7 linked regions of the Homo sapiens genome follow. The protein of the gene in region 7 purifies or fractionates together with the protein of the main gene of each other region. This does not show direct contact. Each region holds a gene or a part of one and is shown on either strand. Other genes may lie near its edges. The genes, in order: CUEDC1, YAP1, KCTD17, GLMN, NEDD4L, KCTD5 and ARRDC1.

The links.
Region 1: the proteins of ARRDC1 (region 7) and CUEDC1 purify together in Homo sapiens (affinity purification with mass spectrometry; 4 studies listed by BioGRID and IntAct, with this or other methods). This does not show direct contact.
Region 2: the proteins of ARRDC1 (region 7) and YAP1 purify together in Homo sapiens (affinity purification with mass spectrometry; 5 studies listed by BioGRID and IntAct, with this or other methods). This does not show direct contact.
Region 3: the proteins of ARRDC1 (region 7) and KCTD17 purify together in Homo sapiens (affinity purification with mass spectrometry; 4 studies listed by BioGRID and IntAct, with this or other methods). This does not show direct contact.
Region 4: the proteins of ARRDC1 (region 7) and GLMN purify together in Homo sapiens (affinity purification with mass spectrometry; 3 studies listed by BioGRID and IntAct, with this or other methods). This does not show direct contact.
Region 5: the proteins of ARRDC1 (region 7) and NEDD4L purify together in Homo sapiens (affinity purification with mass spectrometry; 5 studies listed by BioGRID and IntAct, with this or other methods). This does not show direct contact.
Region 6: the proteins of ARRDC1 (region 7) and KCTD5 purify together in Homo sapiens (affinity purification with mass spectrometry; 3 studies listed by BioGRID and IntAct, with this or other methods). This does not show direct contact.

What each region holds. Positions count from the first base shown.
Region 1 is NC_000017.11:57,861,413-57,864,912, forward strand, and holds part of CUEDC1 (CUE domain-containing protein 1), read right to left. Parts: intron 1,874-3,500; 3' UTR 1-1,873.
Region 2 is NC_000011.10:102,204,447-102,207,946, reverse strand, and holds part of YAP1 (transcriptional coactivator YAP1), read right to left. Parts: intron 2,055-3,500; coding exon 1,873-2,054; coding exon of another isoform or gene 1,861-1,872; intron 1-1,860. UniProt on the Homo sapiens protein: Transcriptional regulator with dual roles as a coactivator and corepressor. Critical downstream regulatory target in the Hippo signaling pathway, crucial for organ size control and tumor suppression by restricting proliferation and promoting apoptosis.
Region 3 is NC_000022.11:37,054,742-37,058,241, forward strand, and holds part of KCTD17 (BTB/POZ domain-containing protein KCTD17), read left to right. Parts: intron 1-1,578; coding exon 1,579-1,670; intron 1,671-2,656; coding exon 2,657-2,752; intron 2,753-3,500. UniProt on the Homo sapiens protein: Substrate-adapter for CUL3-RING ubiquitin ligase complexes which mediates the ubiquitination and subsequent proteasomal degradation of TCHP, a protein involved in ciliogenesis down-regulation.
Region 4 is NC_000001.11:92,250,488-92,253,987, reverse strand, and holds part of GLMN (glomulin), read left to right. Parts: intron 1-3,500.
Region 5 is NC_000018.10:58,050,726-58,054,225, forward strand, and holds part of NEDD4L (E3 ubiquitin-protein ligase NEDD4-like), read left to right. Parts: intron 1-3,500. UniProt on the Homo sapiens protein: E3 ubiquitin-protein ligase that mediates the polyubiquitination of lysine and cysteine residues on target proteins and is thereby implicated in the regulation of various signaling pathways including autophagy, innate immunity or DNA repair.
Region 6 is NC_000016.10:2,696,023-2,699,522, forward strand, and holds part of KCTD5 (BTB/POZ domain-containing protein KCTD5), read left to right. Parts: coding exon 1-21; intron 22-1,883; coding exon 1,884-1,975; intron 1,976-3,500. UniProt on the Homo sapiens protein: Its interaction with CUL3 suggests that it may act as a substrate adapter in some E3 ligase complex. Does not affect the function of Kv channel Kv2.1/KCNB1, Kv1.2/KCNA2, Kv4.2/KCND2 and Kv3.4/KCNC4.
Region 7 is NC_000009.12:137,608,686-137,612,185, forward strand, and holds part of ARRDC1 (arrestin domain-containing protein 1), read left to right. Parts: intron 1-3,500. UniProt on the Homo sapiens protein: Functions as an adapter recruiting ubiquitin-protein ligases to their specific substrates. Through an ubiquitination-dependent mechanism plays for instance a role in the incorporation of SLC11A2 into extracellular vesicles.

The sequences.
Region 1 (3,500 bases), on a different chromosome or scaffold from region 7:
GGTGCAGCGGTGCCGCAGGTGTCACCTCGAGAGTGCAGTCGGAGAGCGCCGCGGGTGAATGGGCCAGGCAAGGCAGGGGTACCCTAGGGATGCGACGCGGGGCTCCTGGGGACAAACCCTGCCCCAGGCCGGGAGGGAGGAGGGAGCAGGAGGGTCCAGCCCACGCCGCTGGCCACATCAGAGCACCAAGAGAACACCAACTGTTTATTACAGGAATTCCTATGAAACAGCTCCAAGAAAAAACCCACACATAGGAGGAAAAAAAATAACAAAGCAACACTCAACAGACATGGGGCTGGGGCTTCCCCCACAGTGCGCCGGGTCCTGGCGCGGGGAAGGCTCAGAGACCCGTCGAGAACTCGAGCTGGGGTACCGAGGCACTCCTCGGAGACCCCCCCCCCTCCCTCCAGGGCCCCAGGCCTGGCGCGGGGAGCAGCGGAGGGGGCGACCGCTCCTCGGCAGGGCCCCCCGAGCCAGCGTCCCGGCCCCGCGCGCGTTTCCAAACTTGGTCACGCTCGGCGGCGGCTGCGCGTCCCGGCCCTCCCCAAGCTCGGCGTTGCGAGTCCGGGCAGGGTGGGCGGGACGAGGTGCGATCGCCGGCTCGCCTTCGCTACGCCCTTGTGATCTTGGGGCCACGGAGGCCACCAGGGCCCGGCCAAGGATCGGATGCCACTCCCAACCTCCCAGAGCCGCGCCGAAGCCTCGTGCCTGCCCAGGCTTCCCGGCTCTCCGGAAGGTCTGCGCGCTCCCATGTCCAGGGCGGGGCCACGGGCTGGGCAGCCTCCCTCCCCGTGGCAGTGGTCAGTGCCGTGTAAGCGTTCCTAGAATCAGAGTTCTCCTCCTCAGATCACCCGCCCTTCTCAGGGGCACCCAGCAAGCCCTTATGCCCTAGGCGCTCACCCAGGCTGGCGGCCTTTCCGCCTTGCTCTTTAGCCCTGCACCTGCTCAAAGGGGTCACTCCAGGACCCACCGCTGCCCACCCTCGGACAGCAGGGCTTCCAGTCCAGCTGGGGAGTCAGAGCCCCTGTGAGCCCCTACTGTGGTGTGACTCCAGAACTGGCTTTTGTCTGCTGCCAAATTAAAGACCCTGCCTCCCCAGAGTCCTCCAGCTCCAGGGTGGCCACCCTCCCCATCCCTGCTGGGTGACCGGGAGCTGCTGGGAGTGAGCCCATCCCTAACAGCAGCAGCCTGATGAGGCCAGACGGGGCAGGGCAGTCGGCAGATGCTTTGCAGTAGCCCATAGCTCCTCAGAGTTCCTGGGGGACTGGCCAGGGACCTCCCACCCAGGCTGGGTGCAGGGCTCGTGTGCTGGGCCAGCAGCCCCGGGGGAAGGCTGAGATACAGGAGGACATGGAAGGGAAGGGCACAAGTGCCCGGAGGGAGCTGAGGAAGGGGGACCAGAAGGGAGCTGAGGAAAGGGGGTCAGGCAGAGTCTGTGACAGGAGAGATAGAGAACGGACGGAGGCAGAGACTCCACCTTCAGGCCAAAGAGCCTCTGGTGGGGGTCATCTTGCCCTTTTCCATATTCCAACTTTTATCTGCTTTCTGGATTTTTTTTTTTTTAAAGGGAGGTTGGTTCCTGCATTTCCACTCTTTGACCATAGGAACGCCTGGCTACAAAAGGGGCTGTAATTGGCTGCTGCCTATAGGGGCCCCAGGTCCTTCCTCCAATTGCAAGGCAGCAACTCCGAAGTTCTAAGTCCCATGGAAAGTGGCAGTGGTTGGGCTGGACTGTGGCTGGAGGATCACCGGGCCTCGGTTCTCAAGCACCATCTGTCTGGCTGCAGCTGGGCCCTTCAGCTGGGGGCCAGTGTTGCTTTCCAGCTGCCCCCACCGGGTCAGATCATCTCTGGCAAGGAAGAGCTGCTGGCATCTGGTAGGGGAAAAAAGGGATGGGAGGAATCTTTTTCAAAGGAGCCCAATGGTCTTTCCTGGTCACTGGTTCCTGGAGAGACAGTTTTGGGAGAAGTTACTAAAGACGTAAGCCCTCTCCTTTTTCCAGGGACTCGAGGTCAACCGTAGAACTCTGCCTGGGTCATCCCCCCATTCAAATTCCTAGAACCATTCCAGCTTGCCCAGCTGCAGGGACTCTGGCAGCAGGAGATGGAGTGAAGGAATGGAATCCCGGGGTGAAGCAGCTGTAGGGGAGGGCTTCAACGTGGGAGGGTACCTGGCCCATTCTAATACGTCATAGCTCAGGGGAGCTAGGCCACAAAGACCTGTAGGTGGAGAAAAGTAAACTGGGGGCAGAACTTGGTAGGACTCAGACACCAGGCTGAAGAGTTCCTAAGACTTTACTCAGAAGACTCATTCAGGCCAGGCGCAGTGGCTCACGCCTGTAATCTCAGCACTTTGGGAGGCTGAGGCGGGCCGAGGTCAGGGGTTTAAGACCAGCCTAACCAGCATGGTGAAACCCCGTCTCTACTAAAAATACAAAAATTAGCCGGGCGGGGTGGCACGTGCCTGTAATCCCAGCTACTCGGGAGGCTGAGGCAGGAGAATGGCTTGAACTTGAGAAGGGGAGGTTGCAGTGAGTGGAGATTGCACCACTGCACTCTAGCCTGGGCAACAGAGCGAGACTCCATCTCAAAAAAAAAAAAAAAAAGAAAGAAAAGAAAAAGAAAAAAAAAGATTCATTCAAAGAGCACAGGAAAAATGGAACTAAAGTGGTGTTTTGGTGGTGGGATAATCAGAGTAGGTAGGGGCAGTGAAGAGAACAGGGCTGTGACCTAGGTGATGAGCATCTATCAGGGTGGTAATGGAAGGAATAGAAAAGAGAATGAAAGGGGGCAGTCAGGAGGAGAGACTGAGTTGCTATCCAAGGCTGAAAAGAAAATCTTGGGTGCAGCTGGGGACACGAAGCAGCTCTGGAAGCCTAACTGCGATGGAGATTCAGATGTAGGAGCCAGATGCGCAGAAGTGTTGCTGGTGCTATAAAAGAGGGCGGAGGCACTGCCAGAGTGGGCAGTGAGAAGACTTCGAAGAGGGTCAAGGGCAGAGCAACAAGGAGAGCCAGTATTTAGGGAGTGGGCGGAGCAACAGGAGCCAGGAGAGAGGAAGGAGAACCTGGCTTCCTGGGGTCACAGGAGCCAAGGGAGGGCAGCTTCAGGAGAGATCAGGGGAGTGCGTGTGGAAGAGCACCATAAGAATGCAGAAGATGCTAAGGCCCTGAGCTGCTGGGTGACCTCCGAGTCAATCCGAGTGATGGGAGGGGCTGTCAGCCTGCAGTGGATGAAGGAGGATGGCAGGGAAGACTCAAGGACCCTTGGTGTTTAAGGGGAGGAGGAGGAGGATGTCAACTTGCAGAAGGAGCTGGAAGGGGACAAGCTGGAAGTCCTAGGACAGAAATAAATGATGAGGTGCAGGTACGGTGGCTCACACCTGTAATCCTAGCACTTTGGGAGGTCCAGGCGGGCAGGTCACCTGGGGTCAGATGTTCGAAACCAGCCTGGCCACATGGCAAAAATCCATCTCTACTAAAAATACAAAAACAAATTAGC
Region 2 (3,500 bases), on a different chromosome or scaffold from region 7:
ATCCTGTGCTTTGGCATAGAACTTGAGGCTGCTTCCTTAGTTTGTCAAAGAACCATATTTTGGAGTATCATTTTCTGAGCCCCAACAAGTTCCTGACATCGTATGTTGGCACATACTGTCTTACTCCTTCTATCAGGGTTTACCTTTGATGCCAATCACACTAGAATTGTATGGACAGATTACCGACAAAGCACAGTTTCAACGTGAGCCTGTCTCAGATGCCATGGCTTAATTTAACTCCTGAAGTACCAATTCCTCAAACCCCAAATCAGAGTTCAGGTAGTACTGAGTTCACATATTTTCACTGACACTCAAGAGATACTTTTAAAATACAGCCCTAAAAAAAACCCAAAAAACAAAAAACAGACCTTTAGGTGCCTCCTTCCTGGTAACAGAAATGTAGAGCTTTTTTTTTTTTTAAGAGACAGAGTCTCGCCATGTTGCCCAGGCTGGTTTCGAACTCCTGGGCTCAAGCAAACCTCCTGCCTCGGCCTCCCAAAGTGTTGGGATTAGAGGCATGAGCCACCATGCCTGGCCGAGTATGACGATTTTTAAATGTCTATACTTAGCATGCTGTGATTTAGCTAGGGAAAAAATGGCACAGATACATGTATTTTATGTATGTAAACAGAGTATCTCTGGAAAAATTAACAAAAAACAAAAAACCTAAGAAACTCATAGTTATTTAGGCCCCATAGGAGAGAACTAGAAAAACAGGGAAAAGATCTTATTTTGAGTGTACTTTCACCTCTGTACATCTATCACTAGTATACCATTTTTCTATTATCTATTCAAAAAAATTTTATATGGAAATTTAAAAATATCTACGCTACTTAACAAAAGACCTTATCTCCAATATCTGAACTTAGTAGATTTAACCACTCTGAAATAAGATAAAGTAAAAATTAATGTTGAGATTAATTATATATATTAGGAACATAAAAACCAACAGTACCTTCTGGAAGAAAGCTGATGGAATTGGTGATTAAAGGGCTTCAAAGCTCTCTACTATGTCCTACTTTCCCCAAAATAAAAAAACATCCATAAGCAGGTAATTTTAAAGCACACTGGCATCTTCTAAACTTGAAGATAACTTTTTGTTTTTGAGACAGAATCTCACTCTGTCACCCAGGCTTGAGTGCGGTGGCACAATCTTGGCTCACCGAACCTCTGCCTCCGAAGCTCAAGTGATTCTTGTGCCTCAGCCTCCTGAGAAGTTGAGATTACAGGTGTGTGCCACCACGCTTGGCTAATTTTTTTATTTTTAGTAGAGATGGGGTTTCGCTAAGTTGGCCAGGCTTGTCTTGAACTGGCCTCAAGTGATCTGCCCACCCTGGCCTCCCAAAGTGCTGGGATTACAGGCATGAGCCACCGCACCTGGCCAAAGGTAACATTTATTTTGTTTTCAATGAAAATTCTTAGATTCGGTAATACCGAAGTATATTTGTCATTTGAGAAATGTCATATTGGTGTATCCCGCCACGTAAGTTATTAATAAAGGATGTTTTCTCCTGAGTGATGTTCTAGAATTTCCCCTTTAGTGAAATCCTCAGAAAAACAGCAATCCACAATTCCATGTACATTAGAGAAAGCATCCTTGCTTCCTTCAATTTTTGCTCAATTGCAATGACCATGACCAAAACAGCTCTTCATGATACAGGTTTCCAAGTCACATCCCTTGTAACTTGATCAAAGGCCATTCACAGTCACAAAACTAAGACAAGGACAGGGCTGGATAGAATGCTTCTGTGTCACTCAGTTTTACAAAGACAACATTCCTCTGTAACTAATAAATGTTAAAATGAAATCTGCCCAACTTTAAGAAAACAAACCCCCAAAAGTGGAAGGCTGGTTTCTAACCTGTGGCCTCACCTGCCGAAGCAGTTCTTGCTGTTTCAGCCGCAGCCTCTCCTTCTCCATCTGCAGTTGCTGCAGTCGCATCTGTTGCTGCTGGTTGGAGTTGCTGCCACCCATGACGCCTCCCTGTGGGCTCTGGGGAGCCAGGGGTGGTGGCTGTTTCACTGGAGCACTCTGACTGATTCTCTGGTTCATGGCTGAAATGAAAAGAAAAAAAAAATCTGTCCTAAAAAACTAGTGAAGGAAGATAAAATGATGATTTAATTATTCAAAAGCAATTTGGGATATTCGATGTAACTTTTTTGGGCAGGAAGACTGGAAATAACCTAAAAATCCATCAATATCACAATGACTACATTAATTTATTATTACTGTTGTCACAAGATACAAGGAAGTCATAAGAGAAAAGAAACAAGACGTAGTTTTAACATGCAATAAGGAACAGTTTCTAAGGACTTACTAAATTAAAAGCAAGGTGCAGAAGAGAAAGTGTTTAAAAAAAACGGGGTGGGGGAAGGGAGCGGGGGTGAATATATTGCATATTCAGAGGATATAAAAATTGATGAATAGCTAAGAAGCAACTAACATCTTTTGGCTCCAGAGATGGGAAACTGGGTGACTAAAGGACAAAGGTGGAGAACCTTATTTATAACTTCTGAAGTGTGAATGATGCAAATTCATTACTTCTTATGAAATATATAAATTAAAAATTCATCCACAAAAATTAAGACAAAGCATTCCAAACAGCAAAGCCCATCAAAATAATCAGCCCTTAATATATCCACATACACATCCCAATAAAGCAAGTAGATTAAAATGATCTGATGCTTGCTCATATCAAATTGAGTCCACAAGTATCTGGATGACATGGATTTGTCTCATTTGACACCATGGTAACCCCCAGCACAAAGCCTAGGTAGTAAAAAAAAAAAAATTTTTTTTTGAAGCTGTAATACACCATTTGGTGGTTAGAAATGGACTGGGTTTTTATACTAGTGAATTTCTGTCACTGATACAACACTGATCAAACTGTGAATTAACCTCAGTGAGCAGAGGGAAGTTTTATGTGAAAATGTTAGTAAGAATAATAAACCTTTTCAGATACATATTCAACTTAAGTTGAAATTTTGGGTCACTGTTTCTACTAAATGTTTAGTACACATTGACTAAAGAAAACCCCAGGTCCCAATGGCTTTGCAGTCATTCAAGGAAGAAATAATACCAGTCTTACACAGCCTCTTCCAGAGCATAACAAGGAAAGAATACTTTCCAACACTTATAAGGCCAGCATAACCTTGATACCATACAAGGATATTAAAAGAAAGGAAAATTACAGGCCAATCTCTCATATAAACCTTGCTACAAAAATCCTAAATAACATACACTGACAGCTCTTATAACTTAATGGTCTCCCAGTCACACAGCAAACTCCTTGTGATTTTTAATGTGTCCCATTATAACAGACTGGCTGCTTGGTAAATGCCATTTCTTCTTGGAGACTACTTGAGCAAAACCTCACAAGGCTGGGCCCATCCTATACATTAAGAATTTTCTTCTCTCAAGGAATTGCCTGGGAACTTTTCCATATTGTCTACTGACATTTATTGCCTGATTCTAATTTTTTACTTACAAATTTATATGCT
Region 3 (3,500 bases), on a different chromosome or scaffold from region 7:
GCAGTGCTAGCTGTCTGTCACCTGCAGGGCTCCGCCCAGGGCACTGGGGATAATTCTCGTAATCAGGCAGCTGCACTCCCTGACCTCCTGCTCTGTGTTTGGTCCTGTGTGGGCACCGGGGACAGAGGGCAGATCAGAAATGTGAGCCCCATCTTAGCCATTTCAGGCTGCAATCATGAAGTAACATAGATTGGGTGGCTTATGAAAATCAGAAATTTATTTCTCTTGGTCCTAGAGGCTAGAAACCCGAGATCGGGGCACTGTGGCAGGTTCTGGTGAGGACTTTCTTCCGGATTGCAGACTGCTGACTTCTCGTTGTGTCCTCACATGGCAGAAAGAGAGGGAGCTAGCCCTCGCCCGCCCCTTCTCGAGAGCTTGTTTGGAGGTTCTAGCAGGGGAGCGCAGCTACTCACATACCCTTGACCAAAGTCCGGTCCTCCTCTATCGGGGGTGGTCGCCCCCTTCGATGGAGCTCACAGCTTCGGGAGGGACACACCTGGAGCAGTGAGGGAGGAAGGGGACACACATCTAGCCAGCCAGATCAGCTAAATCAACCCTGGTGATCAGTGGAGTGACAGATGTCCCCGCCAGATCGCCCTCACATCCAATTAGCCTTTCTTATAAGAAGACTGATCCTACCCTGGGGACTCTACCCCCATGATCTCATTACCTCCCCTCCTAATCCCATCACAGTTTTCAGCAGGTGGATTTTTGGGGAACACACACATTCTGCTCATAATGAGCTCTGTCCCCAGGGAGCCCAGAGGCCAGTCAAGGAAAGGGCCCAAAGGTCCCCTGCCTTCTGGGAGCCTAGGGGAGTCGAAACAGCTGCAAGCTCATCGCTTCACTGGTGGGCTGACTTCTTCATCTCCCAGATTAACTTAACTGTAAGATGGGGACAGTAATGCCTGCTCTCCTCATATCCCTGGACTTGTGATGAGCTCGTGCAGGGTGTTGCAAACTGTAAGGTGAGGCAGTTGGGGGAATGCATGGACACAAGGGTATGTGCTTACAGTGGGGAGACATGGGCTCTGGAGTCTGCAGCGCTTGAGTTCCCTCTGGCACTTACCAGCTGTGTGACCTTGGACAAGCTGCTTCTCTTTGGGAGCCTCAGTTTTCCCAGTTGTTCAATGCAGATGATGAAAGTACCTCCTTCTAGTTCTGAGAATTCAAAAATGTAATGCACCTGGCACTTAGAATGTGCTTAATAAATAGGAGCACATAATCAGGGGTCAGGCAAGGCCCTGCTCATGGTGACATTCTGGGGATCAGTCCCAATGACCCTGCTGTCTCTTGATAGCCCTAAAGCTGCCCCAGACGGTGGCCTGGCAGGTACCCCTGGGTCACCGCACTCAGCACAGCAGAGCTGTGTGGCAGCCCCTCAGCCCCTTCCACAGGAAGTGTGGGATCCAAGGAAAGAAATGCTCCCTCTTACTTGACCCCTGAACTCACAGACACTCAGCTCACCCTCAGGGCGGGTGATCAGAGCGAGAGGTGGGTTTCGGGGTGGAGGGAACAAGAGGAGAATGGGGCATGGAGGCAGAAGGAGTGACCTGGGATCTGTTCTGTCTGTGCCAGGGGTCCTGGAGGAAGCCGAGTTCTACAACATCGGCCCGCTGATCCGCATCATCAAAGACCGGATGGAAGAGAAGGACTACACGGTCACCCAGGTCGGGAGCAGGGGCAGCACACACGGCCAGGGCAGGGGCCAGTGGGGAGAGAGAGGCTGAGAGACGGGGCGGGAAGCAGAGGAGGTTGGGAGAGACAGGACCAGTGTTTGTCATGGGGAGGCCGAGCTGGCCTGTAAGGAGAGGCATGGTTGGGCTGACAGGCTGCCCAGCACAGCCCCAGACTCGGAGACGGACACTGGGGTTCAGTCCCTGTCTCAGCCCCATTTGCTGTGTGTTGGGCCAGGCTCGCCCTCTCCGGACCTTGATTTTCTCTTATGGGATAGAGAGGGGTGGGAATGGCACACCCATCCCTTCCTCATAGGCAGAAGGGGGTCAGTGTGGAGGTACAGGGTGCCCTGCAGAGGAAAATGCAGGATTAGCAAATTGTGCCTTTTGTGGCATCAGATGGTCGCCTGGTGGGCTCGGCACAGGCTGTTGGGGCTGGCGTTTGTGACCTTGGAGCCTGGGCCTCCCTGGCCAGTCTGCAGGAGGAGGGAAAGAGATTTTCCGCCTACTCTGGGGGATGTGTGAGGGTTGGGGGACAGGTAGTGAGGAACCATTTCTCAGGCCCAGGGGATTAAAGAGGGGAGGCTCCGTGTCTCCTTGAGGGCCTGACTCCTTGAGGGTGACCCAGAATGTTCCCTAAGCCCCACCCATGTTCTTTCTTGAATTACCCGTGTTCCGGTTCTGTCTCCTTCACCCTTGAGCTGGGTGACCTTGGGCAAGTAACTGGACCTCTCTGAGCCTCAATGGAAAGTCCCGTAATGCCTAGGATTCTTGGAAGGATTAAGTGAGATGGTGCCTGGTAAATGCCTGGTGAGGAGCAGGTGCTCAGAGCATGGCTGCCTCCCCCCAACCACCTCTTCTTTCTCTCCCTCTCTTCTTCTTTGGGTATGTTGCGGGGGTGGTGGCAGCAGGTGCTCATGCCCCTCCTGGGGTGCCTGGTGCTCCCACAGGTGCCCTCTATGTGACCCTTCTGCCCACAGGTCCCACCCAAGCACGTGTACCGCGTGCTGCAGTGCCAGGAGGAGGAGCTCACGCAAATGGTCTCCACCATGTCTGATGGCTGGCGCTTCGAGCAGGTGCGCTGGGGACAGGGGCGTGCCACCAGGACAACCCTGGGACCTCCTAGCCTCTGACCAAGCAGGCCCCTCCCTTCCTGCAGCCCCAGCCTTGGGTTCCCCACCACAGTCTCCCCCAACCCCAGGGTTCTTCTGAAATCAAATTAAACAAGGTTAGGAGAGACCACACTTGGTGGCAGGTTGACCGAGAGAGAGGATAGGAGCCCCAGTGGCCATAGGACAGCACGGGGTGTCCTTGTTGGTGGGAGTCCTCACAGCAACTGGGTGGTGATCTATCTGGTGGCATGAGTGAGTCTGTGGCCCCCGAAGGACAGCTCAGGTGCAAGGAGACCAGATCCACATAGGTGAGTGGAGTCCACATTGAGTCAGTACCTCTTAGAACTCAGAGTCAGCATCATGCGATCATAGCAGTTCCTGACACAGTTTTCAGGGTCTCCGCAGGGGACATGCCCAGTGGCCAGCATTGCAACATGCAGGGGAGCCCAAAGCAGTGCCTTCCCATGAGGTCTTTATGGTGAACGGTGGTTCCTCCCAGTCCAGATGCAGTTTACCCATCGGGAGATCCTTATCCCGAGGGACTTTATCCCTAGTCATGCAGCTGACCTCCCACCTTTCAGGTTTCCAGAGGAGCAGAGCCAGAAAGTGAGCCCAGGGTCAAAAGTGCCTTTAGAGAAGGAGAGGGGGTTGGCTAGCCTTTCTCCACGCCCACCCACACGTTCCCTGGCACATGGAGACTGCAAGGCAGAAG
Region 4 (3,500 bases), on a different chromosome or scaffold from region 7:
ACATGCTCCTTTAGCTTGGAGGAGTTTGTTATTACTCAACTTCTGAAGCCTACTTCTGTCAGTTCATCAAACTCATTCTCTGTCCAGTTTTGTTCCCTTGCTGGCAAGGAGTTGTGATCCTTTGGAGAAGAGGTGTTCGTGTGCTTGGAATTTTCAGCCCTTTTCCGCTGCTTTTTCCTCGTCTTCGTGGATTTCTACCTTTGGTCTTTGCTGTTGGTGACCTTTGGGTGGAGTTTTTGCTTGGGTCATCCTTTTTGTTGACGTTAATGCTATTGCTTTGTGTTTGTTAGTTTTCCTTCTAACAGTCAGGCCCCTCTTCTGCAGGTCTGCTGCAGTTTGCTGGGGGTCCACTCCAGACCCTGTTTGCCCGGGTATCACCATTGGAGGCTGCAGAACAGCAAAGATTGCTGCCTGCTCCTTCCTCTGGAAGCTTCATCCCAGAGGGGCACCCGCCAGATGCCAGCCGGAGCTCTCCTGTATGAGGTGGCTGTTGACCCCTGCTGGGAGGTGTCTCCCTATCAGGAAGCACGAGGGGTCAGGGACCCATTTGAGGAAGCAGTCTGTCCCTTAGCAGAGCTCAAGCGCTGTGCTGAGAGATCTGCTGCTCTCTTCAGAGCTGGCAGGCAGGAATGTTTGTCTGCTGAAGCTGCACCCACAGCCACCCTTTCCCCAAGGTGCTCTGTCCCAGGGAGATGGAAGTTTTATCTATAAGCCCCTGACTGGAGCTGCTGCCTTTCTTTCAGAGATGCCCTGCCCAGAGAGAGGAGGAATCTAGAGCTTAAGTTTTTTTTCAATTTCCATTTCTATTTAAGATTCAGGGGTGCAGGTTTGGTACAGGGGCATATTGTGTAAGTTGTTTCTTTCTCTAAGATAAAACATATCCATGAAATATTTGCAGAGCCGGATGACTTCTATATGAATTAGAAGAAAGGGGAAACCTGGGTCTTGTTCATGGCTTTTTATTTCTTCATTACCATCACTGACTGTATTCTTTGCAGGGTTCCTGACTGTTCTGGCAATAAATTTCATTGTAGTGTAGAACTGCCTAGTCTTCCTTTTGTGAGAGAGATATGCTACAGTGAATTTTGAAATGTATAGTTTTAAGCCTTAGAACTGGAAATCAGTAAGCCTCCTTGGGTATGAAATTAAAAGCAGGTATTTGTGAACATTTCAAATTTTTAATTATAACTATTTTAAAACTCTTAATTTACTTTTTCTAGACACTGAAAGATTTTAAGAAATCTTAAAATGTGATTTTCTTTGTAGTATTTATTATTTCTTTAAAAACGATCTGGTAACCTTGAGAGAAAAAATATTCTTATTCTCACAGCTTCTTCACTCCTACATGCTTCTAAAAATATTACAGTTTATCATCTGAAAAATTTGTGGAATTATGCTGAACAGAATATGTAAAAAATTTCTTTAGGCTACTTTTGGCATGTGTTTTTATTACCTGAAGTTTTATGATTATGGGCTATTGCCATTGAAAACAGCTAAGGTTTTAACATTCAAAGATCTAGATTTGCACTGTCCAATACAGTAGACAGTAGACACATGTGACTATTTAAATTTATATTAATTTTTTTTTCCTTTTGAGTTGGGGTCTCACTCTATAGCCCAGGCTGGAGTGCAGTGGCGCAATCACGGCACATTGCAATAACAACCTCCTGTACTCAGGTGATCCTCCCATCTGGGATTACAGGCATGAGCTACTGCGCTGGGCCAGTACTCTTTATTAATATGTGATTATTTCCATTTGAGAAATTTGAAACATTAAAAGAAAACGTTTGGTTAGAGATACATTTGCTTTTTAAAGTCCTGATTTAGTAATTTGGTTAAAATTTTTGGCTGAAGAGAATTAGTGAAGCTTAATTGTATATTTGTACCAATGAATGATTATAAAACTTTATCACTGTAATCCCAGCACTTTGGGAGGCTGAGGCGGGCAGATCACCTGAGGTTAGGAGTTAGAGACCAGCCAGTCCAACATGGCGAAACCCCATCTCTACTAAAACTACAAAAAAATTAGCTGGGCATGGTGGCAGACGCTTATAATCCCAGCTACTCTGGAGGCTGAGGCAGGAGAATTGCTTGAACCCAGTAGGTGGAGGCTGCAGTGAGCTCAGATCATGCCTCTGCACTCCAGCCTGGGCAACAGAGCAAGAAGACACCATCTTAAAAAAAAAAAAAAAAGTTTTGGGAATCAGATTTAAAAGAATTTCCATTACAAAGTAAAACTGAAAGGATGAAAGAAAAAAATTTTCAACTTAGAACTTCTACAAGAGGAAAGTTTTTCATGGATACAAATTCTTTGGTTATATTTTTGCAAATATTCCAGTCTGTGGCTTGTGTTTTAATAGTATTTTTCAAAGAACAGAAATTTTAATATTTATGGAGTCCAACTTATCAATTTTATTCTTTTATGATTCATTATTTATGGGTTCTAAGAAGTCTTTGTTAACCCAGATCACAAAGGTAATTTCTTGTAGAAATTGTATAGTTTTAGGTTTTACACTTAGGTCAATGACCCCATTTCAAGTAAACTTTTTATGATATGAGATATGGGTTGAGAGATTTTTTTTTCTTTTATTTTGACCTCAACACTATTTGTAGAAAAGGTTATCCTTAATTTACTGAATTATCTTGGCAACTTTATCAAAAATCATTTTATAAGTATGGGTCTATTTTTGGACTCTATTCCATTTACCTGTATCTATTCTTTTACCAATACCACACTGTCTTGATTCCTTTATAGGAAGAAATTATTCTGTTTTATTCCTTTATAGGAAGTCTTGACCTCAAGTAATGTGAGTCTGCCAACTTTGTTCTTCTTTTTCAAAATTGTATTGGCTATTTTTAAATCCTTTACCTTTTCTGTATAAATTTTAGAATTTTGTCAATTTCTGCCACAAAGAGTTTTAATTCCACTTATGGCATTCTGGAAAAGGCAAAAATTACCTTAACAAAAATCAGATTGCTGGTTGCTGGAGGTGGGAGGAAACTGACTACAAAGGGGCACAAAGAAATTTCTGGGTCATGGGAATATCTTTACAGCAGCAGTGGTTACATGACTTTATATCACTATATATCTTTGTCAAAGCTCAGAATTGTATAGCTAGAAGGTTATATTTTACTGTATGTAAACAATATCTCAACAAACCTGACTTTGAAAAATAATAAAAAGAAAAGAACTAGGCTCAATAGTGAATTAGACTGAAATTACCTCATGAACAGGCAAGCACACTGATTATGTAAAAATCTTTCTGATGTTTACTTTTGAATTGTTTATTCTCCATTTTTCTACATTAAAGTATTAAGATTAAATGTGTTATATGGAAAGGATTTGAGGGAAAACTTTTATTTCAACTATATAAATAAACGTGTGAGTTGTGATGTAAAACCTAGTTTTTACTGAGAGTCATGGCAAAAATAATTTGAAAAACAGTATCCTAGAAAAACTTTTACCCCGTGTGAATGGGAAAACATACAGCAATGTAAAT
Region 5 (3,500 bases), on a different chromosome or scaffold from region 7:
GCTCCAGCCTGGGCAACAAGAGCAAAACTAAAAATAAAAAATAAAAAAAGAATAGTAATAGTTTTGCTTAAAGGGTGAGGACAGTGACAAATGGTGATCCTCAGATGACTGTAGTTTCTTTACCATTACAGAATGCAATTCAAATGAAAACCATTGCATGGTACTCAGGCATTTCTTCAATGCAGTGTGTGCCCACATCACCAGGAAGCTTACTTGGGAAAGTTTGTTTTGGGATTCTGGAGTACCTCAATATATCTGGTATATTTTCCCAAGAAAAGTGAATAATCTTGGGGGGCCGAGGTGGACAGATTGCTTGAGCCCAGGAGTTTGACACCAGCCTGGGCAATGTGGTGAAACCCCACCTCTACAAAAAATACAAAAACTTAGTTGCGTGTTGTGGCACGCACCTGTGGTCCTGGCTGCTGGGGAGGCTGAGGTGGGAGGATGGCTTGAGCCTGGGAGGTTGAGGCTGCAGTGAGCCATGATCATGCCACTGCACTCCAGCCTGGGTGACAGAGCAAGACACTGTCTCAGAAAACAAAGGCAAACAAACAAAGATCACCCCAAAGAAGAACTCCCAACATATTAAAAGTCATTGAGTTTTGTACCCTTCAAATGGATGAATTGTGTTGTGTATGAATTACATCTGAATAAAACTGTTTAAAAATATTAAGAATGATTGAGTGTGACATTATTGCAGCAGTACATTGGAGTTTCTGCTAAATTACTTTTGCATTCATTTCAAAAGGAAGCAACTATGCCCATTGCTAATTTAATAACCTGTTTGCTTGTGCGGTGTTTAAAATGGCATCATGAAAACATGGCAATGTGTGATAGATTAAGAGCCAATTAAATTTTTTATTTTGAGTTACAAGATCTGCATTAAACAGATTTTATTGTTGCCCTTGAATTTCCAGTCTTAGATGAGTAGCAGCAGTGAAAAAAAGAGATCCTAACTTAAGAGTTTTCAAGCTTTTTGATGTTGCAGGTATTTGAATAAGTGGGTCTGTCTTACTGAAATATTTGTTAATTAGCGATAAAGCAAACTATATGTTGATCTTTTGGTAGTCCATGCTAAGGAGGATTAGAATAATATATAAATAATATAATGGTAATAAGTATCAGGGCAGGAGGATTAAAGAAGGGTGGAAGAAGTGTGACAAAATGTTACTTTCTGTTTTTACATTGTTTCTCTTCCAGGTCACAACTGTATTTCAAATGTATTTCATTTTCAGACTATAGGTGGCAATGTTTGTGCTGTTCACTGTTTAATGTTACTGTTGGCTCGGGTGTTGCTTGTTGCTGGAATATGGAAATGATAGCATAATTTAGAGTTGAGAATAAAAAAAACTAGATTTAGAAAACTAGAAACTAGATTTAGATTTAGTAGAGACTTTCTAAATAGTCCTAGTTCTGCTGTGTGGACCCTTCTGTAACTTTCTGTTACTCTGAGAAGGAGCTGATAATTATCACAACTACTGGTGTTTGATTAGCAGAGACATTCTTGATTCCTGATGCAAGACCGTGGCTGAAGTTGTAGCAGGGCGTTTGGTGGTTGGCGATGTAAAGATCTGGGCCTCTTGTTTCATGAATAATAGAATCTCACTATGATTGTAATATTTTGTTTTGAACTGGAGTGCTGATTATTGTAATCCCTTTAGGTGAGAAAAGCCTTATTATATAAGTGTATCTGGGGTAACTAGCTTAAATTTGACACTCCAGTCAACTTTTTGTCCCTGACTTCAGTCCTGCATTGATTCAAAACGCACCAAGTTAAATGTCAAGGCTCTCAGATTCCCTTGCTGTCATCAAATTCAGTGTTTGGTGACTTCTTGGCAGGCAGACATCTACCAAGAGATTTTGTATTCTTTTTATACCTCCTATTCACCAAAAGAAAAGGGCCATTCAAAAGTGAGTTTTTCTTTTTTTTTTTTTTTAAGTTTAAAAAGCTATGATGTGGCCACCCATGGTGGCTCATGCCTATAATCCTAGCACTTTGGGAGGCCAGGGCAGGCAGATCACTTCAGGCCAGGAGTTCAAGACCAGCCTGACCAACATGGCAAAACCCCGTTTCTACTAAAAATACAAAAATTAGCTGGGCGTCGTGGCGTGCCCCTGTAATCCCAGCTACTTGGGAGGCTGAAGCAGGAGAATCGCTTGAACCTGGGAGATGGAGGTTGTGGTGAGCTGAGATTGCAACTCTGCACTCCACCCTGGGTGACAGAGTGAGACTTTGTCTCAAAAAAAAGCTGTGATGTGAAACCTGTTCTGTGAAGGTGGAACTTGGAAAGGCTTGTAAGGATGGTGGTCCCATGAAGAGGATGAACAAACCAAGGGAACTGTCCTCTTGCTGGTTTGGGTGATGTCCCATCACCTGTCACTTTGTTTGTTTGGGCTGCAGTGGACCAATGGTTTCCCAGGCACACTGAAGTGACATGTAGATGGATTGCTTGAGTGGCTCCGGCATGTTTCCATCTCCTGTCTACCAGGCAGAGACCGTGTTCCCTGTTTTGAGGGGATCCAGAAGTGCAGTGACAAGGGCCTGATTTGCATCTCCAGCTCCTGGTCTTGCCTGTGTTAACAATTTTTTTTTTTTCTTTCCAGATGGAGTCTCACTCTGTCGCCCAGGCTGGAGTGCAGTGGTGCAATCTCGGCTCACTGCAAGCTCTGCCTCCCGGGTTCACGCCATTCGCCTGCCTCAGCCTCCCAAGTAGCTGGGACTACAGGTGCCCACCACCACGCCCGGCTAATTTTTTTGTATTTTTAGTAGAGACGGGGTTTCACCATGTTAGGCAGGATGGTCTCGAACTCCTGACCTTGTGATCCACCTGCCTCGGCCTCCCAAAGTGCTGGGATTACAGGCATGAGCCACCGTGCCCGGCCAACAATTTTTACATTCTAATTAATTTCCAGTTTCCAACCTGACTCAAGGTTTAGCTCTTCGTCTCTTGGGTGCAGTTTTGGATCATGTCTTATAATGTATATTTAAAAGTGTGTTGTAAAGCTGGAATTCCCATTGTGGGTAAATGCTGAGATTGTTGTAATACTGAGAAGTGCACTTGGGAACCATGGCCAACACTGCCCTAGCTGACCGGAGGTTGCACTGAGTTGTCCCCTTTGAACATCTGTTATGAATGAATGTTGGAAAATGCAAAGCCAATCATTTCTTTTACCTGACCTATGTGATGTTAAGTTTTAGTTTTATGTTTTGGCAAGTGAGTGTTGGATGTCACTAATGTGAGGAGGCCGGTGAGGGCAGACTTTGGGTCAGAGGTAATGTAGGAGATGAAGACCCTTTCTATTAATTTTTCTTGTTTAATTGAAGATGTTCGTGTTGAATGGGTTTTATTTACATGTATAAGTTCTTTTTTTCTTAATGCTGGAAGTTACTTTGGTTTTTCAGAAAATGCAAGTAACCCTAATCTATTTAGAGAATTACTTTGCTTAGTAAGCACTCAGTACTATTTAGTAATGGGGAAAAAATGTGTTTGTGTCCCACA
Region 6 (3,500 bases), on a different chromosome or scaffold from region 7:
ACAAAGACCTCGCGGAGGAAGGTAAGCCGAGTTTTGGGCACAGGTGCCTTAGCTTTGGGGGCAAGGGCCCGACAAAGGTGCCAAGGGCTCCACTTAAGACACAGATGCCTGCAGCCTGGGGCCCCAGGGAGGAGCAGGCCCTGTACTCTGAAGCTGGGGCCGACGTTCTGGTGCTGAGGCCACGGGCAGCGGCGCAGCTGCCGGACAGGGAGGCCTGGGGACCCTGTGGGTGTGGGGTCCTCCCTGGCTGCAGCTCCTTGGAGGGCTCCCTCTGTCCAGGCTCCGGCTGGCGACACAAGGGGTGTGAGGGGTTCCTCCCTGCTGTGACTGAGGTGGTCTGAGCGGGTGTGTGAGGCACATGCCCGGTGATGCCCACGGCGTGCTTCAGGGCCTGGTTCCCTGGCCTGCTCTCCCTCAAGGACAGCCCAAGGGTGGTGAATGTCTCTGTGCCATCACCTGGACTGTGCCTGCTGCTGCCAGCTGCCGTGTTCCATTCTGAGTGATCGTGGTGCAGGGACGGCGCCCACACGCGTTGGGCCCAGGCTGGCCTGCCTGTGTGCTGCGGTGCTGGCTTGGCTCAGAACAGCTCGAGGCCTCGCCGTGAAGGCTGAGGGTTTCTGGGCACCTGCGTGCGGGCGTGGCCCTGCTCCCCCGGGTCCGTGTCTGCGCATCGGTCTGCACTGGGCAGCGTCTGACTCCGTTTCTGTTCTGGGCCTCTGGGCCTCGGCATCTGCCTGCCTCCTCCGAGTTCACGCGGGGCGTGGAGTGACGGGGGCTGTGGCCCAGCCCTGCCCCTGCTCTGAGGCTGTGAGCCATGATCCCCACTCCTGTCTCTTTGGCAGGGAATGTCTTTCACATGTACTCTCTCTGGTCGCTTGGGCAGCCGCTTGTGTTGTCGTGGAGCCGCTCGAGTCGAGGCTTCGCTTTATCTCATTCTGCCCCTAGTGGGATTGGCTCAGAAACGGGCGCTAGACACAGACCAAGGCCCTGCCGCCCAGGCTCACCGGTCTGCCTCTATCCCGCCCCGATGCAGCCACTCACGCCCTGGGTGCTAGAGAAGGGGGCTGTGCGGGACCCATGCGGGGCCGGGAAGCCTGTGTCTCTGAGGCCCTCGTCTCCTTGTCTCTATCCTGCGTGGCCCTGTCCCATGTAGGTGGCTGGGTGTTGTCCTGAGCTGCCATGTGCCATATGTGGGTTCCTCTGGGGTCCTGGAGGAATGAAGACCACCCATGAGGAAGCCCTGAGGCAGGACCTGTGGAATCTGCTCTTAAGGCTCTTAAGGGAGGTTTGCAGTCCCTAAGTGCGGCACATTACGGATGGCAGTCTTTGGGAAGAGCTGGAAGTGACCCTCTCAGCCAGCCACAGTCTTCCCTTTGAATGGGGTCAACTGAGGTGCCAGGTGACTGAGACATATGCACAAGGCCGCAGGCCTGAGCCCCACACAGCACCCCACCCAGTGGCGTGGCCATGAGCAGGTTCCCAGCAGGAAGCGTCGGCCTCCAGGCTTGGAGGGAAAATGCCAGATCCAACCCCCAGCATACCATGGCCTCGGCGTAGACATACGCTGAGCTGCATGTAAGCAGCGGCTCCATACCTGGCGGGTCACTGGAGGTCACTCAAGGTTACCTGGGGTGACCTGAGCTGGAGGTGTTCAGTCCACACATCGGCCCTCTCACCACGGCCCCTCCGCCCATTATCCCAGGAGCCCTGCTGGGCTGACACGTCTGCAGGAAGCCTGTTAGGTCGGGGCCTGAGCAGCTCCCGCTGGGCCGAGCCATGGGCCCTCATTGCAGGGGCAGGGGCAAGGGCAGGGGTGGGTGTAAAGCGTGGATTCTTTGGTTTAGTTTGGTCTGGTAAAGACAATTTATTTTTCCTTATTCCAGGAGTGTTGGAGGAAGCAGAATTTTACAATATCACCTCATTAATAAAACTTGTAAAGGACAAAATTAGAGAACGAGACAGCAAAACATCGCAGGTGAGACAAATGACTGAGGCTGGAAGCTTGTATGGCTGGTGTGAAGGAAGGGCTCCCCTTTACTCCCCCGACCGGCTGCCTCCCAAATAAGTCCTGCGGTCTGGGGCTCTCCTACCCTGAGACCCTTGTCCTCTGTCACTGCCCCAGTGCCTGCCAGCTCCGTCTACCCGGCTCTCCCCAGGGTCCCTTGAAGGATCCATTCATCCTGCCCGGCCCAGACTCTGGGAGCCCCCAAAGGATGGCTCTGAGGAAGTTGGGCACGGGAGACGTGTGTAGGGAAGGAGGGCCCCATGAGGGCCGGTCGGGGAGACCCTGAGGTGGATGGCATCTGGTAGGGAGCAGAGGGTGCCAAGGGCCTGCAGCCAGCATGGCTGGAGGGAGACAGCAGATGGGTCGTGTGGGTCTGCGCAGGCGCCAGAAGGACCTTGGTTTTATTGGGAAGAGGGGCGGCTCGCCACAGACACACCTCTCACAGCTGGCACGGCCCTTCTGCAGCCAGGGGAGCCCAGGTTGTTGGTGGGCTCTGCCCAGTACCTCCTGTGGAGGGGCCACTGCTGGGCCTTGGGCATCAGTCCCGTCCCTGAGAGCTGAGCCCGCCCCCCCCACCCAAGCTCAGCTCCCTTGAGAAGGCACCAGGAGTGGGGTGTGTGCCGCACTGTGGCCGCGGCTGCCATCAGAAGTCTCGGTCCACGTAGAGCCCTGGGCCCTGTGCAGACGCTCCTAGCCTGGCCGCTCAGGGCCGCTGGCCACCTAGCGACTTGCCCAGTTCCCCCTCCTGCTGGAGCTCCCTTGGTGCCACTGAGGGATCTGGAGGGGCTCCTTGTCTGTGGGGCAGGAGCTGCGTCCCGCGCCCCGGGTCACCTTGTCCAGTCTGCTTTTTTCCCTGTTGTGTGACCGGGCTGTGTGGGCACTCCCTGCCTCAGTCTACCTACCTGTATGACGCAGGTGGGCAGGAAATGGTGCAGGTGGGAGAGTCTGCGGTCCAGCCTTGCTGTGACACAGTAGCATCTCACTGTCTTGCAGAATAAAGCAACTCGGGCATGTGACCTCGAGGCCACTGTGTGCCTTTGTCACTCAGGCATCCCTGGCATGAGTCACCACCTTAAGGTCAGGGACCCAGGACCTCTGAACCCCTTCTCACTGCTGCGTTTCCGTCCAGCCCCGTCTGCAGCCTGAGTCCTCCGTAGTGACTGTCCAGGATGTGGGGCCACCCCGCCCACTGGGGAGCAGCTCCATGCAGGCGGGCGGCCCTGGTGGCTCACCATCACTCCCAGGACCACAGCTGCCTGGAGGGGCACAGCAAGCGTGCCAGGCAGGTGGGGGATTAGGAGGTGGATGGAGTTTTAGGAAGCAGCTCAGCCTTCGGGAGGCCCAAGTCCAGGCTGCCGCGCAAGTTCAAGAGCCTTTTTCTGGTAGCTGGGAGCGAGCTTCGTCTGGCACTGGCTCTCAGGGCCCTGCTTGCCAGAGCCTTTCCCGACCGATGAATTCAGGGCTGCACGGTTGCTGCGTGCGGAGCAGACGTGGA
Region 7 (3,500 bases):
CCCTGGGAAATTCACCCAGCCTGACCTGAAGCAGTTGCTGAGAGGCAGAGGAGCAGCTCCAGGTGTTTTGGCAGGGAAGCAGCTGGCAGCTGTGCGGGAGCCCCTTGCCTCCCGTGTTCTTACTGAGGAGTGTGTGGGGCAGCTCGGGACAGGTTTCACTTTGGACAGTGGTTGGAGGCTGCTTACTCTGGCAGAGTCATCTCAAAGAGCCTTGGTGTATGTGCAAAACGGGGCCATCTGCATGGGCGTTGGGAAGATCACAGAACCTGGACCCTTAGGATGACCCAAGGGTCAGTTGCATACTGTTTGTTTTTGTGGAGTCAATGTCCCATGACGGTTTTCGCGATGCTTTGCTAGTAGGAGCAGTGGCGTGTGAGGCTCCCGGTTAAATACCATGAGATTCTAAGCGGAATTCTGGGTCTCCTGGTATGCACAGGTAAAATTACAGTAGACCTGTCCCACTCTTTGCCAGAACCTCGTACTTGTCTGCAGTTTGACTGGAATAAGGGGTGTTTGTGTTCCACCTCCCTCCAACGTGTGTTGAGACATTTATTTATTTATTTATTTATTTACGTTGCTCTTGTTACCCAGGCTGGAGTGCAGTGGTGCAATCTCAGCTGCTCACCGCAACCTCTGCCTCCCTGGTTCAAGTGATTCTTCTGCCTCAGACTCCCGAGTAGCTGGGACTACAGGCACGCGCCACCAGGCCTGGCTAATTTTGTATTTTTAGTAGAGACGGGGTTTCTCCGTGTTGGTCAGGCGGGCCTGGAACTCCGAACCTCAGGTGATCCGCCCGCCTCAGCCTCTTAAAGTGCTGGGATTACAGGCGTGAGCCACTGTGCCTGGCCCCAAGACATTGATTTTATTTGAGATGAGGTCTCACTTTGTCACCCAGACTGGAGTGCAGTGGTACAATCTTGGCTCACTGCAACTCCTTCCTCCGGGGCTCCCACCACAGCCTCCTGAGTGACTGGGACCAGGGGCACGCGCCACCACACCCAGCTAATCTTTGGTAGTTTTGGTAGAGATGGGGTTTCACCGTGTTACCTAGGCTGCTGTCACACTTCTGGCCTCAAGCAATCCGCTCGCCTTGGCCCCCCAAAGTGTTGGGATTACAGGCGTGAGCCACTGCGCCCAGCTGTGTCGAGACATTTAATATTTGTCAATCTGATGGATTGAAATGGTAGGTCATTTGGGCTTTCCCTGCAAGCTCCACCTTCCGGGTTCACGCCATTCTCCTGCCTCAGCCTCCTGAGTAGCTGGGACTACAGGCGCCCGCCACCACACCCGGCTAATTTTTTGTATTTTTAGTAGAGACGGGGGTTTCACCGTGTCAGCCAGGATGATCTCGATCTCCTGACCTCGTGATCTGCCCGCCTCGGCCTCCCACAGTGCTGGGATTACAGGCTGAGCCACTGCGCCCGGCCGGGTTTTCTGTAATTTCTAGTGAGGTTGGACATCTGTTCCAGTTACCTACTGCTACGTAAAAGTCGCGGTCACCTCAAGTCAGACACCATTCTTAAAACAGTTAACACAACCATTTTATTATATCTCACAGCGTTGTGGGTTAGGAATCTGGACAGTGAGGGCAGGGTTAATCTTCAGTTCTGTGCCACCAGCTGGGATCACTTGAGGGTGCTTGGCTGGCATACGGGTTAGTCTGGGGACCACTGCCCCCTTTCCGGCATCCTCTGTGGGTTCCAGCATTTTTCTTTTTTTTTTCTTTTTGAGATGAAGTCTCGCTCTGTCACCCAGGCTAAAGTGCATTTGTGCGATCTCAGCTCACTGCAACCTCTGCCTCCTGGGTTTAAGTGATCCTCATGCCTCAGCCTCCCAAGTAGCTGGGATTACAGGCGTGTGCCACCATGCCTGGCTAATTTTTGTATTTTTTTTTTGAGATGGAGTTTCACTCTTGTTGCTCAGGCTGGAGTGCAGTGGCGCGATCTCGGCTCACTGCAACCTCCGCCTCCCAGGTTCAAGCGATTCTCCTGCCTCAGCCTCCCTGGTAGCTGGGATTACAGGCATGTGCCACCATGCCCAGCTAATTTCGTATTTCTAGTAGAGATGGGGTTTCTCCATGTCGGTCAGGCTGGTCTGGAACTCCTGACCTCAGGTGATCTGCCTGCCTTGGCCTCCCGAAGTGCTGGGATTACAGGCATGAGCCACCGTGCCCGGCCTTTTTTGTATTTTTAGTAGAGATGGGGTTTCACCATGTCAGCCAGGCTGGTCTTGAACTCCTGACCTCAAGTGATCCACCCGCCTTGGCCTCCCACAGTGCTGGGATTACAGGTGTGAGCCACTGCACCCAGCTGGGTCCCAGCATTTGCGGGATTCAAGGTGGGGATGTGCAGTCTGTCAGGAGTGTTAAAAGCACGGCAGCATTTCCAGTCCCCAGGCCTCCTCTCCTTGCTTCAGCCACGCCCACCCTCCTCTGTGCCTGCTCATGCCCATGTGCTTCTGTTGGGCTGTCTGCTGGTCCACAGGAGGATTACTGGTGTTCCGGATTTTCAGCATGAACACAGTATGGGGTCTGGCCCGAGGAGGGCCTGGCTAACAGAGCATGGATTCAAAATCAGAGCAGAGCTGGGTACCGTGGCTCATGCCTGTAATCCCAACACTTTGGGAGGCTGAGGCAGGTGGATTGCTTGAGCTTAGGAGTTTGAGACCAGCCTGGACAGCATGGCAAAACCCTGTCTCTATAAGAAAAACAAAAAACAAAAAACAAAACCCAGGTGTGGTGGCACGTGCCTGTAGTCCTAGCTACTTGCGGGGCTGAGATGGGTGGATCGCTTGAACACAGGAGGTTAAGGCTGCAGTGAGCCGAGATCGTGCCACTGCACACTAGCCTGGGCGGCGGGAGTGAGACCGTGTCTCAAAAACAACAACAACAACAACAACAACAAAAAAACAAAAAATGGACCGAGGTTGGGGTGGCAAGGCTGGGCTGGAATGGAGGCTGAGGACAGGCCCTGGCAGCGCCCGGGGGTAGAGGGCGTGCAGCAGGAAGCAAGGGCCACCCTCAGGGATGGGGGACTGGGCCTGGCAGCTGCCGAGGGGTAGGCAGGATGCATGTGGAGAGCCACGTGGGGCTGCGGCTGAGCCAAGGATTGTGAGAGGAATCCTGCTGCTCTGGGTGGCAGGCAGAAGGCCTGGGCCACAGGTGGGGCCTGCTGGGGAGACCACAGGTGAGGCAGGTATGGCTGACCCTGGGCGCTCGGCACACCGGTACTCCTCCTGCCTGGCTGCTCCCTCAGCAGGTGTCAGAGTCTGAGTCACCTTTTCCTCACGTGACCCCCACCAGGACCAGGCAGGGAGGTGGCCATCTTTGGCCCTGACTCAGCCCTGCAGGGAGAAGAGGGGCTGGAGGTGCAGGTGGCCTGCCACTGTCTCCCCCAACCCCTGCCCACCTGGGTCTTGTGCTGTGTGTACTTCTGCTGCGTCTGTCCTCCCTTGTGACCAGCTTCTGCTGGACCTGATTGTCCAGCCATGATCTTCTGATC